2 separate regions of the Homo sapiens genome follow, and region 2 is linked to region 1. Evidence: fine-mapped expression QTL. A gene starts in region 1. The other region holds a variant in brackets. All regions are shown on one strand. Distances are from middle to middle.

What was found. PIP is the estimated chance that this variant, and not a neighbour inherited with it, causes the effect.
Region 2: its variant is fine-mapped to the expression of CCDC69 in whole blood (TOPMed, PIP above 0.99).

The regions. Positions count from the first base shown.
Region 1 is chr5:151,220,928-151,226,300 of GRCh38, reverse strand. CCDC69 (coiled-coil domain containing 69) reads left to right here and starts at 2,209. Exons shown (of 9, transcript NM_015621.3): 1 at 2,209-2,378. The coding sequence starts at 2,331. It overlaps LOC105378230 (a long non-coding RNA gene), which reads right to left. Exons shown (of 4, transcript NR_160730.1): 4 at 1,951-2,825. RefSeq lists silencers at 479-773, 2,257-2,336 and enhancers at 2,457-2,656, 2,677-2,786, 4,207-4,426.
Region 2 is chr5:151,177,823-151,183,195 of GRCh38, reverse strand. It overlaps CCDC69 (coiled-coil domain containing 69), which reads left to right. Exons shown (of 9, transcript NM_015621.3): 9 at 1-2,144. It also overlaps the pseudogene PDGFRL2P. Among named protein-coding and RNA genes, the nearest start is that of ANXA6, 23 kb to the right of the region's middle. The variant T/C (reference allele first, on the strand shown) is at 2,156.

The DNA of each region.
Region 1 (5,373 bases):
GTGCCTGGCCTACAAAATTTTTTTTTTTTAAATTAGCTAGGCTTGGTGGCAGGCACTTGTGGTCTCAGCTACTCGGGAGGCTCAGGTGGGAGGATCACTTAAGCCTGGAAGACTGAGGCTGCAGTGAGCCATGATCACTCCACCGCCCTCCAGCCTGGGTGATATTGCAAGATCCTGTCTCAAAAAAAAAAAAACTGTTTTAAAATTTCAAAATCTCACCAATACAGTGGTAGTCACTCAATTTTTTTTTTTAATGAAAATGAGTTTGTTATGTTTTGTAACACAAAAAATTCATCTTCATCAGTATTTTTGCTGGTTATGTGGCATTCTATTTTTATGGATATAGCATAATGTATTTAACCAACCTTCTTTTCTTGGCTGTTTAGGTTGTTTTGGGTTCTTTGTTTTTAATCATGAGCACTGTTCCAATAAACATTGTTAATTTTAGTATAATTTAAGTATATCCTGTTTCTTCAGTACCTGTGGAGCACGTCCTATGGCAGGGGTTCTCAAACTTTAGCCCAGGCCAGACATGAGTGGAGTGCTTATGAAGCCATAGATTCCTAAGCCCCATCCCCAGAGTTTAGGCCAGGGGTGGGGCCCGAGAATTTGCATTTCCAACAAAGGCGGCTGGTAGTGCTGACACTGCTGATTTGGGAATCACACTTTGTGAGCCACCATTCTCTATTATACTTGCTTTTGAGAACCTAATAACACGTTTCCTTAGTTTCCTTTCTTACACACTTTTGCAATTGGTTTTGTACCCTATGGAGGGAGCAATTTTTTTGAGGTCTCATATTCTTTCCCCATTCATGACTCTAAGCCGTTTTCACAGCACACCTTTCCAAGAGTTTTGGGCCTGACTTTAATATTCCAATATACACGCAAATAGGCATACACACTGATTTTCAAAATTGGTTATCTTTTTCCTGCATTGCCATTTCAGAAACCTCAGCTAATAACAAAGAGAAGATAAACAAAAGCTCCTTTTCCTAGACACTGACATTTTATGTCCCATAGTCACCATACCTGGCCTGCCTCAAGAGGTTGTTGTGATGAATAACATCTATCCAAGATGGATAGAGTCAAATATTACAGATGCTTGTGAGGTGGAAAAAACTATCAGCCCAGAAGTGAGGAGGCATTAAAATTAAACTTAGTATTATTGGCCAGGTGTGGGATCCCAGGACTTTGGGAGGCCGAAGCGGGCGGATTACCTGAGGTTGGGAGTTTGAGATCAGCCTGGTCAAAATGGTGAAACTCTGTCTCTACTAAAAATACAAAAATTAGTTGGGTGTCGTGGTGCATGCCTGTAATCCCAGCTACTGGGGAGGCTGAGGCAGGAGAATCACTTGAACCTGGGAGGCAGAGGTTGCAGTGAGCCAAGATCGTGCCACTGCACTCTAGCCTGGGCAATAGAGCGAGACTCTGTCTCAAAAATAAATAAATACAATAAACTTAGTATTATGATTTATTTGTAGGCCATTGAGTCAAAGTTTAGGTTCTGGAGTTAGAACTGTATTCTGTGCAGTGGCTCATGCCTGTAATCCCAACGCTTTGGGAGGCCAGGGTGGGAGGATCGCTTGAGGGCGGTCGTTCAAAATCAGACTGGAAAAAAGAAAAGAATTTGGTTGGGTATGGTGGTGAGCCTCTGTAGTCCCAGCTACTCAGGAGGCTGAGCTGGGAGGCTCGCTTGAGCCCAGGAGTTTGAGGCTGCAGTGAACTATGATAGCGGCAAAAAAAAAAAAAAAAAAGGAACTGGATTCTATCTGGGCTGTGGTAACTTACTAGCCATGTGACCTTAGGCAAATCATGTTGCATCTCTGAACACCATTTTCCTCACCTGTAAAATGGAGGAAGTAATACCTTTGTTGCACTGATATGGCAAGAAATAGAAATAAAATGTATAAAACAACTGGGACAAAAACAGCCCTCAATGAATGATAGTTGTTAGTTTATCAAATAATTGCTTTAATTATTTTTTCCCCCGGCCCTTTCTTAGCTGAGGGTTCGGAAAAGCATCTGTTGCTCCTTGAGGTTTTCTTTTCTTCTGCCCTGACCAGAGCTTCCTATTATTTAGAAGGATTCTGGTCACCTGCCTCTGGTGGCGGCGCCGCTGGCCCTGCGGGCTACACTGAGGCCCCGCTCTTCGGGTATTTACGGCGGGCGGCCGCCCCAGCTCAGGCTCAAGACAGCGCTTCCAGGTTCAGTTTCAGGGTCTCGCCGGCAGCCCCAGCCGGCGGGCGCGGAGCGGGCAGCGGGGCCCGGATCGCAGGCTCCTCTGGGGGCCCCGGAGTTGGGAAGCGGCGTCCGGGAGCCCCCGGAGGAGGATGGGCTGCAGACACAGCAGGCTGAGCAGCTGCAAACCCCCGAAAAAGGTAAAGGGCGCCGGCGGAGAAGTTTGCTTTCAGAGGAGAGGGGAGTGCGGAATCGCTCCGCCGCAGAGGACTCGGCGCCCCGGGCTCTCTCTGGTCGGCCCGGGATACCGGACGGAGAACCTGGAGAGGCCAGCTCAGAGACGAGGGAGGCTCTGCTGGGAGGCGCCCTTTACCCCGGCCCGAGCCGCACCAAGCAGCCGAGTTTACAAACACGGCACCCGGGCCAGGGAAAGGCAGCTGATTCCCGCTGCCTCGGGTGGGGAGATGTCGTGTGTCTGTGGCAGGTGCCCTCTGCTTTCGGTCTGGGGCTGTTCGCTGTGTGGCCATGGACAAGTGACTTGACCTCTCTGGGCCTTCGGCTTCCTCCCCCCGGGGGTTAAAGGCTGATAATCTCAGGGCTGCTCGAAGAGTGTTCCACAGACTCGCAGTATCAGCATCCCTGGGGACCTGTCAGAAATGCAGAATCTCAGGCTCAGGCCCAGTCTTGCCAAGACAGAAGCTGCCTTTTAACAATATGCCCAGGTGATGACGCTTTAAAGTTTGAGGCGCTGGTCTTAGGGCTCTTGCAGGCCCCAGAGCTGGTGAGTGTGGGCTGCCCTTGGGGTAGCTGGGAGGGGCCAAAGAGGGAGGAGATCTACTGCGTTCTGTGGCCCTCTCCTCCCTTCCTGTCCTTCCCCCAAGGGGCCTTGGAGCTGGGTCAGGGCCCAGGGGACAATTCTCAGGTTTCTTGCAGTGAGACCAGCTGCCCCTTGGGGTCTGACGAGCCCAGAAGGTCAGAGCCTGGAGCTAGAAAGATAGCCTCCTCAGGGGACACTGTGAGGCAGAGGGGAAGAAGGACCCTCAAATTCTGGCCCCTTTTCTTACCACTACCTGCCCCCTAGCCAGGTGGGACTAGGTGATCCCTTAAACTTTATCATCATTCCCCCTTGAGACCTTGAGAGGCCCCAAACTGTGACAGTGTTTAATAGTTTTGCAATGAACTTTAGTCCTCCCTCTGCTCCTGCTTTGCTTGTGCCCTGAGTACAGGTTTTTCTGCCTAACAGTAGTCCTAGCCTGGAGGATTCTACTCCCTTCTCTGACACCTCCTGGCTTTCCTTGCTCTCCCTTTATTACCAGATTGAAATTCTCACCAACTCCTGACCTAGAAACCCTCATGTCTTTACTCACTCCAACAGGGAAACTGAGGCTTGGCTCTATCAGTAGAAGGAAGGGGCTGGCTGACAGGGATGACAAGGCGGAGAGACCTGAGCCTTGGCTGAGACTTGTAACTGAGCAAGTGGTAGGCAGACATTAGCCCTGGGTGTAAGTCCTGGTGGTGCCATAAACATACTGGGTGACCCCAAGCAAGCCCTTGTGTCTCCCTGGGTCTCAGTTTCTCCCTGTATGGGGAGTGATGAGCAGGATGATCCCTAAGCATCTGAGAGTCTGTGTTCTCTGCACCTGTGTCAACCTTGTAGCTTGCAAAGTGGACCAAGGGTGAATTCCATCTACCTAGAGGTGGAGGAAACGGGGAAGAGCCTGACCCTTCCACAAGCTGGAAGAGGAGGTCACAGTAAGCACAGGTTCTTTGGCTCCTGCTCCTTCTGAGAGACTTACCAGCTGTTCCTGCCTGTCCCTGGCACAGCCAAAGCTCTGAAGGGCAAGTAAAGCTGGCACAGCCTGTCTGAGTTGGAAAGGGCCTTTGGGTACTACCTGGGCTGACGCACCCACTATACAGATAGGAGGTTAAGGCCTAGAAAAGGGAAGGAGCATGACTGAGGTCACAGAGCAACACAGAGCAGAACCCAGGTATCTAGTCCCCTAGCTCCGTGTTCTTTGTCTCCACCTCCTCCCGCTGTGCTTCCAGTGGCTTCTTGATGACTTTAGCGTAAAATCTTTTACTCCTGTTGCCTCAGAGAACAGCCTGGCATGCCTTCTTGGCCCCAGCCATGCCAGGCCCCTGCCCCTATATGGCAAGATTTATGGGCTGTTTTTGTTTAAAGTTCTCATCCCTGTAGGCTGTGCTCCTGCCCAATTTCTCACCCAGGTGCCAACCCCTTGGAAGGCATGAGCTCCCAAGTTCATCCCCAACAGGCTACCAGCCCCCTGGGAGAGAGGGGGACTCCAGGGATGGGATGGACAAAAATGAGCTCAGGCTACAGAGGGGTTAGGTTCTGATAACCATGACTCACCCTGAGTGTTTACAGCATGCTTTCACATCCCGCCCAGTCTCACAGAAGCCCTGGAAGTTAGGCTGAGCTGCAGAATCTTTCCCACTTTACCGGGGAAACTGAGGCTCAGTGAGGAACGATGGGTCCAAAGTCACACAGCCAGTTGGTGGCAAAGCTGTGCAGTTGAGCCTGGCTTTCTGCACTCCCCATCTGGTGCTCATTGCCTTATACAGATCATGGAGCAGGTGCTTAAGTAGATATTTGAGTGAATGAGGGACAAATAAGAGCCATGCTAGGGGTTGGCCCAGGGAGCAGTAGGAGCATCACATCTAGCCTTGAGAGATGCAGGAAGGGTTTTTGAGGAAGGGTGGTTTGGAAGGTATGGCAGGAGTTACCCACTCATGGCCAAGGCCTAAGCAAAGGCTGAGCCACTGAAAGCACAGCGTGAGGGGGTTCTTTGTGGAGAATGGAGGTGGCAGGCAGCAAGGAATGAGGCAGGCACTTTTAGAAAGGATTATCCTGGCTAGGGACAGGAGCTTGACCATGAGGCCTTCTCATGTCCCTCCAGGTTCAAGGATCTGGGGGTCTGCTGAGTTCTGTGGTCTATGGTGCCTGTTGGGCTTGGCCGACTAGATGTTCTAGACCACCCTGAGAGGCCTGGCCTGGGACTAGGTCACTGCCTTATTGGGACAAGTTGAAATGCTGGGAATAAATGAATAGGGTTCCTGGCAGGCTGGGGGTGGGTGCTGAGGAACCATCTGGATCGTGTGGTCCTGCCTAAACCCTTCTTCTTGGCAAAGACCATGGCTAATGTGGTCACATCCCCCAGGAGGACTCAGGAGAAG
Region 2 (5,373 bases), 43 kb after region 1:
AGACATTTCCTCCCTGCCCCAGCACTCTGTCCCAATCCGAGAAGTTCCGAGGCTTTCCCAGGGGCAGTCTGTGTCACGCTGGCCATTTGACATAAAGGAGACAGCCCCTGGTCCCAGCTTGTCAGCTCTGCTGCCGACTTGCTGACTTATCAACTTCCTCTAGGTGTTTCCACTCCACCCTGGCCTGCTCAGAGCCTCAGTTTACCCCTGCATTAAAATGGTGGGGGGACTGGTCAAAGGACTCTTATGTCACTGCAGTGTCCCATTCTAGGATTGTCTGAAGGCCAGAGTAGGGGTTGGGGGGAGTGTGGACAAACCCCGCAAATCAGAGTGGGGAAGGTGAGTGGTAGAGAGGGGGTCTCTGAAGGCCCTTGGGGCTGACAGGGCCAGGCAGCCTCCCCAGCTGAGGCATCATTCCTGGGCCAGAGTCGTGTCCACCAAGGGACAGTAGCCAGAGCTCCTCTTCCTTTACCAGGCAAGGTGCATCCCCTCAGCCCTCCTGGCCCTTCAGTCTTGGTGCCACCTGGGCACAGGGGCAAGCTTGGTGGTTGTGAGTCCATTCATCTATCAGAGCTGGAACCTCATCCCTGCACAGATGAGGAAACCAAGGCATGGAGCAGTTCCCAGAGTCGAATCTAGATCTCATCTGTCATCCGGGTCTTATCCTTTGCTCTGTTTTTCTCTTCAGGCTCTGGAAAATCAGATCTGTGACTTAATCTTCCTCTCCCTGGCCCTCACCCACTTAGTTTCTTTTTCATTCCTGCTCCCTGCCTTAACTCCTCCTCCCACTGCCCCTGATCCCAGGCCCAGGCTTTTACAACCTGGTGCTCAGCTTCCCCATCAGTGAAAAGGGGTGGCTAGAGTAACTAACCTCAGCAGGCCGTCCAGTCCTGATAGTCTGTGGATTTCGGATCCTTCTCAGGAAGCTTCATGTCTAATGGAGACTATAATTATAACTCCTGTTCTGCATAGAGCATTTGCATCAAAGGCTTTCCATACCCCTCCCTCCCCTGGTCCTCATAAGATCCTTGAAGCAGGTTCCTATTCCTCATTGGCAACATGGCAAACAGATCACAGGAGTCAAAGGGCCTTGCTCAAGGTCCCCAGCTTCAGCCCCAGGCCCTAAGCCAGCGTCAGAACAGTCAATCTGCATTTTTCATCAGTCATTCTATAGTGACATCATCCCAGACTGCCTTCTGTATTCCCCTGTGTACAGTCTCCTTCTGTTTCTAGGTTTAGAAGTTCAGAGGTGACTGTGTTTCTCCATTTCCACAGCCAAATGGGGGAAGAGGTGAGGCTAGGGGAGTGCTGTGCTGATTCTCCAGCCATGGTCAGACAGGTCACCCAGGAGCCTCGAGGAAAGCCCTGGAGGGAATCACATGTGTACTTTTTCATGAAGCTTTTTGCAAAGCACATCTGCGATACACTAGTTTATTGAACTAATGTCCAGGAGTAGACATGATTGGTGGCCAAGTTATTTGGGGACACCTAAACAGATCAGTGACCTGAATGACTTCTCAGAACCTTTAATATGCCAATGTGTGTGGCAAACTTACAAGAAGGGAGCTAAGTATCCAGCCTCTCCCAAACCTCTTTGAACAAAGCTTCTGTCCCTCCCACACCTCTCACCTCACAGGCACATCAGGCTGCAGAATGCGCTTTAGAAAGCATTGTTTTAGTCCAGGCACAGTGGCTCACGCCTGTAATCCCAGCACTTTGGGAGGCCGAGGTGGGTGGATCACAAGGTTGGGAGATTGAGACCATCCTGGCTAACACAGTGAAACCCTGTCTCTACTAAAAAAATACAAAAAATTAGCTTGGCGTGGTGGTGGGCGCCTGTAGTCCCAGCAGCTTGGGAGGCTGAGGCTGGAGAATGGTGTGAACCCAGGAGGCGGAGCTTGCAGTGAGCCAAGATCGCGCCACTGCACTCCAGCCCGGGTGACAGAGCAAGACTCCGTCTCAAAAAAAAGAAAAGAAAAAAGAAAGCATTGTTTTAATTGAGAGGGGCAGGGCTGGAGAAGGAGCAAGTTGTGGGGAGCCAGGCTTCCCTCACGCAGCCTGTGGTGGATGTGGGAAGGAGATCAACTTCTCCTCACTCTGGGACAGACGATGTATGGAAACTAAAAAGAACATGCGGCACCTTATTTATGTGACT[T/C]TTGTGTTTTTCTGGGAGGGTGGGGAGGTGGGTCTTCACAAGGACTTCTGCCAATGGTGGGGATCTCTGAAGAGTAAATCTGGGGCCTGGGTAGCCCACTCGTGGTTCTGGGCACTCTCCTCAAGCACCAAAGCCCCACTGGCCCTTGCTTTGCCCTAATTGTGGATGTGGGGCCTGGGGCTAGGGTGAAGCCTGGATTAAAGGATGGCCTTCAAAATAGACCAAGGCTTGGAGTGAGGCTGAGGTTGAAGTAAGTGGTGAAAACAGAGGGATGGGGTGGGAGAGACTGCGAGGATGAATGAGAAGTCACCTTCTGCACTGCAGGACCCCTCTTTGGCATCAGAAACACTGATGTTCCCACAGGTACCTACCCCTGATTCTGCCTATTGCTCCACATCCAGATGCCTGTGGCCAGGGAGGGAGCTAGGAAGGGGTAGAGGAGACACGAGGACCTCGAGTCACGTGGACATGGGTGGTGGCCAAACCAGTGCCCTGAAGGTTGGTGGCCCAGCAGGTGTAGACACCAGCATCCCTAGCCCAGGTCCCCTCCACATACAGGGTGCCCTCTGCCTCCTGCTGTACCTGGCTCTCCCCGTGTACCACATGGGCCTGTTCACTGATGTAGAGTGGTTGGCCCAACGGTAGGGGATAAAAACGGACTGTCCATCAGCTGCCCCAGGTGCATCTCTGACTCACACACCAGGGTCAGGTAAGAGGCACCATTTATCTCTTTGGGGAAAGGAGAAGTGACTTGCCCAAGGTCACACTTCAGCTTGGTGTCAGAGCACCTTAAAGGCCAGGTTCTTTGTGAAAAACGTTAAGCTTCTCAAGTCTGCAGAGAAAAGCTGGGTTTCCCTCCCCTTCTCAAAGAGTGTCCAGAGGTAACTCAGTCCAGGGAAGTACTTCCCAACGTGGGTTTTGTGGCCCTCTGCTTCTGTAGGGATGCTACCTCCTCAAAGGAGAGGAAGAGGAAGAATTTTACTACCAAAAGTGTTTTGGAAACATTAAGAAAAGCAAAGTGAAATTGGGTAGACTCCGACCACTGAGTCTGTTACATGTACCTGTGTATTTTGAATCTCCAAGACAGGTAATGGTTATAAGAGGAAGTGAGGTAGGGTGGGAGGGAACTTTCTGGTATTCCACCCTTCTAAAGAACATGTTGGGGAAATCCTGGTAAAGCCAAGCCAGTGTCTCCTGACCGTCTGTATGCTCCTTTCCCCTTCTTGGGTCTCAGTTTCCTCTTCTGACAAGTGGGAGAATGATCCTTTACCCTTTCCAATGCCTAAGGCCTCTGTGGAGTTCACCTTTATCACATCCTTGCAGCCACTGCAGGGAATGGAGAGATGAACTCGGGAAGTCGCTATGTGCCAGCTCAGGCTACACAAATGACTGGAGCGAGGTGGAGCCAGAGTGTTTTAAGTTCGGGGGGAACAGGGCACCCTCACTGGGTTCCACAGGGCACCCTCACTGGGTGCCACTGGCCTCCTTTTCAGGGCTACTGAAAGTGGTGATCTTGTCAAATCACAGCTTGTAGAGCACCTTGTTTCCCTGTCCTATACTGTTCTTAAATGGCCTCCAGCTGGGTGATAGCCCCTCATGGGTCTTTCTGAGCCACTCTTTCCCTGGGACCCATACAAGATCAGCTCACTGCTCACATGTCATTGATGGCTCCTGGGAGTCTCAAGAATGATGCTTGAGTTCCTGGGCCCACATGCTCCCCTGCATTCTCCACAGGTGGCAGTGGTGGGACAGATGAGTCTCTGGGTCTCATGTGGGTGTGACATGTTCGCCCTTATTCTTTCTCCTAGTACCACAGGTCTGGATCTTCCCCCTCCCTCTCCACAAGGCTCCTGTCAAATTCCAGCTCTTCCAGGAAGTCCTCTTACAAATGCCTCAGGTCCTCCAGGTTGGTAATATACCTTTTAGCACAGCCGTTCTCCAGATGTTTGAATTTCATGGGAGTAAGTTCTTTGAGAAGAAAGAAACACTACCTCTCCAACACCACTTGGGAAGGTCTGATCTCACAGCAGATGCCAAGGAAACAGTTGCTAACGTTCATCTCCTGTTACACATACACACCCAGCCACAGAGCCTGAGCATTTGCTCCAGCACCATCTTTGTGTGGCTGAGGCCAGTCTGGTCTCGGCTTGAATGTCACCTTGGAGATGACTCCCTAACCACTATATCTTAGGTAGACCCTATCGCATTGCCCTGTTTTATGCTCATTGTATCATTTGGCATTGTCTGCATGGTCACTTTTGTCCATATTTCACTTCTCCCTGCTTAGATGATAAACTTGCAGATAGCAGAAGCCATCTCTTTTAGACTCATCCTCATAACCTTAGTACCTAGTCCAGTGTCTGGCATGTGGCAAGTGCTCATTTTTGGTTAAATTAAGAAAGGAACAAATTATGCATTCTTACGCAGTAATCTGAGAAGTTACTATTTGAAAGATGAGAAAACTGGGGCCCAGAAAAGGGAAGTGATTTGCCCTAGGTAACTCAGAGAAGCAGCATCAGAGTTGGGACCAGAATCCAGGTTTATCAGATTCCCAGTCAAGCAGTAGCTCCATCCCACCATGATTGCTCTTGGTCCTAACTAATCCTTCACTCCCACCTCCCTGCCCCAACACTCCACCACCATGTACACACATACACACAGCCTCCATTACCCGCTGCTTACCTTCTGCCCTGAATATCCCTCGCTAAGGTCCACAGCAATCTCTGGCTCGGCCCAGAACCATGCAGGTCACACTGAAGTTTTCTCCTAGTTATACTGATGTTGCTGAAGCTTGGATGGTGGGTTTTGGGGAGGAAGATGGGTCTGCCATGGTTAAGAGGGTAGAGAAGTTAGAGACAAACATGTTGACTTGATTGTTAGAATTGTTGAATTGATGGTAGATAGAGGGATGGAGAGATGGATGAATAGAATGAATGGGCAGAATGGCTAAATGGGTAGAGGGTGAATGGTTGAGGTGGTTGAATTGATAGAGGATGTGTAGATGTATGAATGGGTAAAATGAATTAATGGAGTATGGGTAGGTGATGGAATGATTGACTGATGGAGGATTCATGCATGGAACAGTTTGACTTGATTGTGAATAGGTCAATGGATAGAAAGGCTGAGCTGGTATCAGCTGGTTCCATGGCTGATCGGCTGGCTGGACAAAACGGCTGACTACATAGAGAGTCATCAAAAGCTGATGTTGTTTAGAGCTC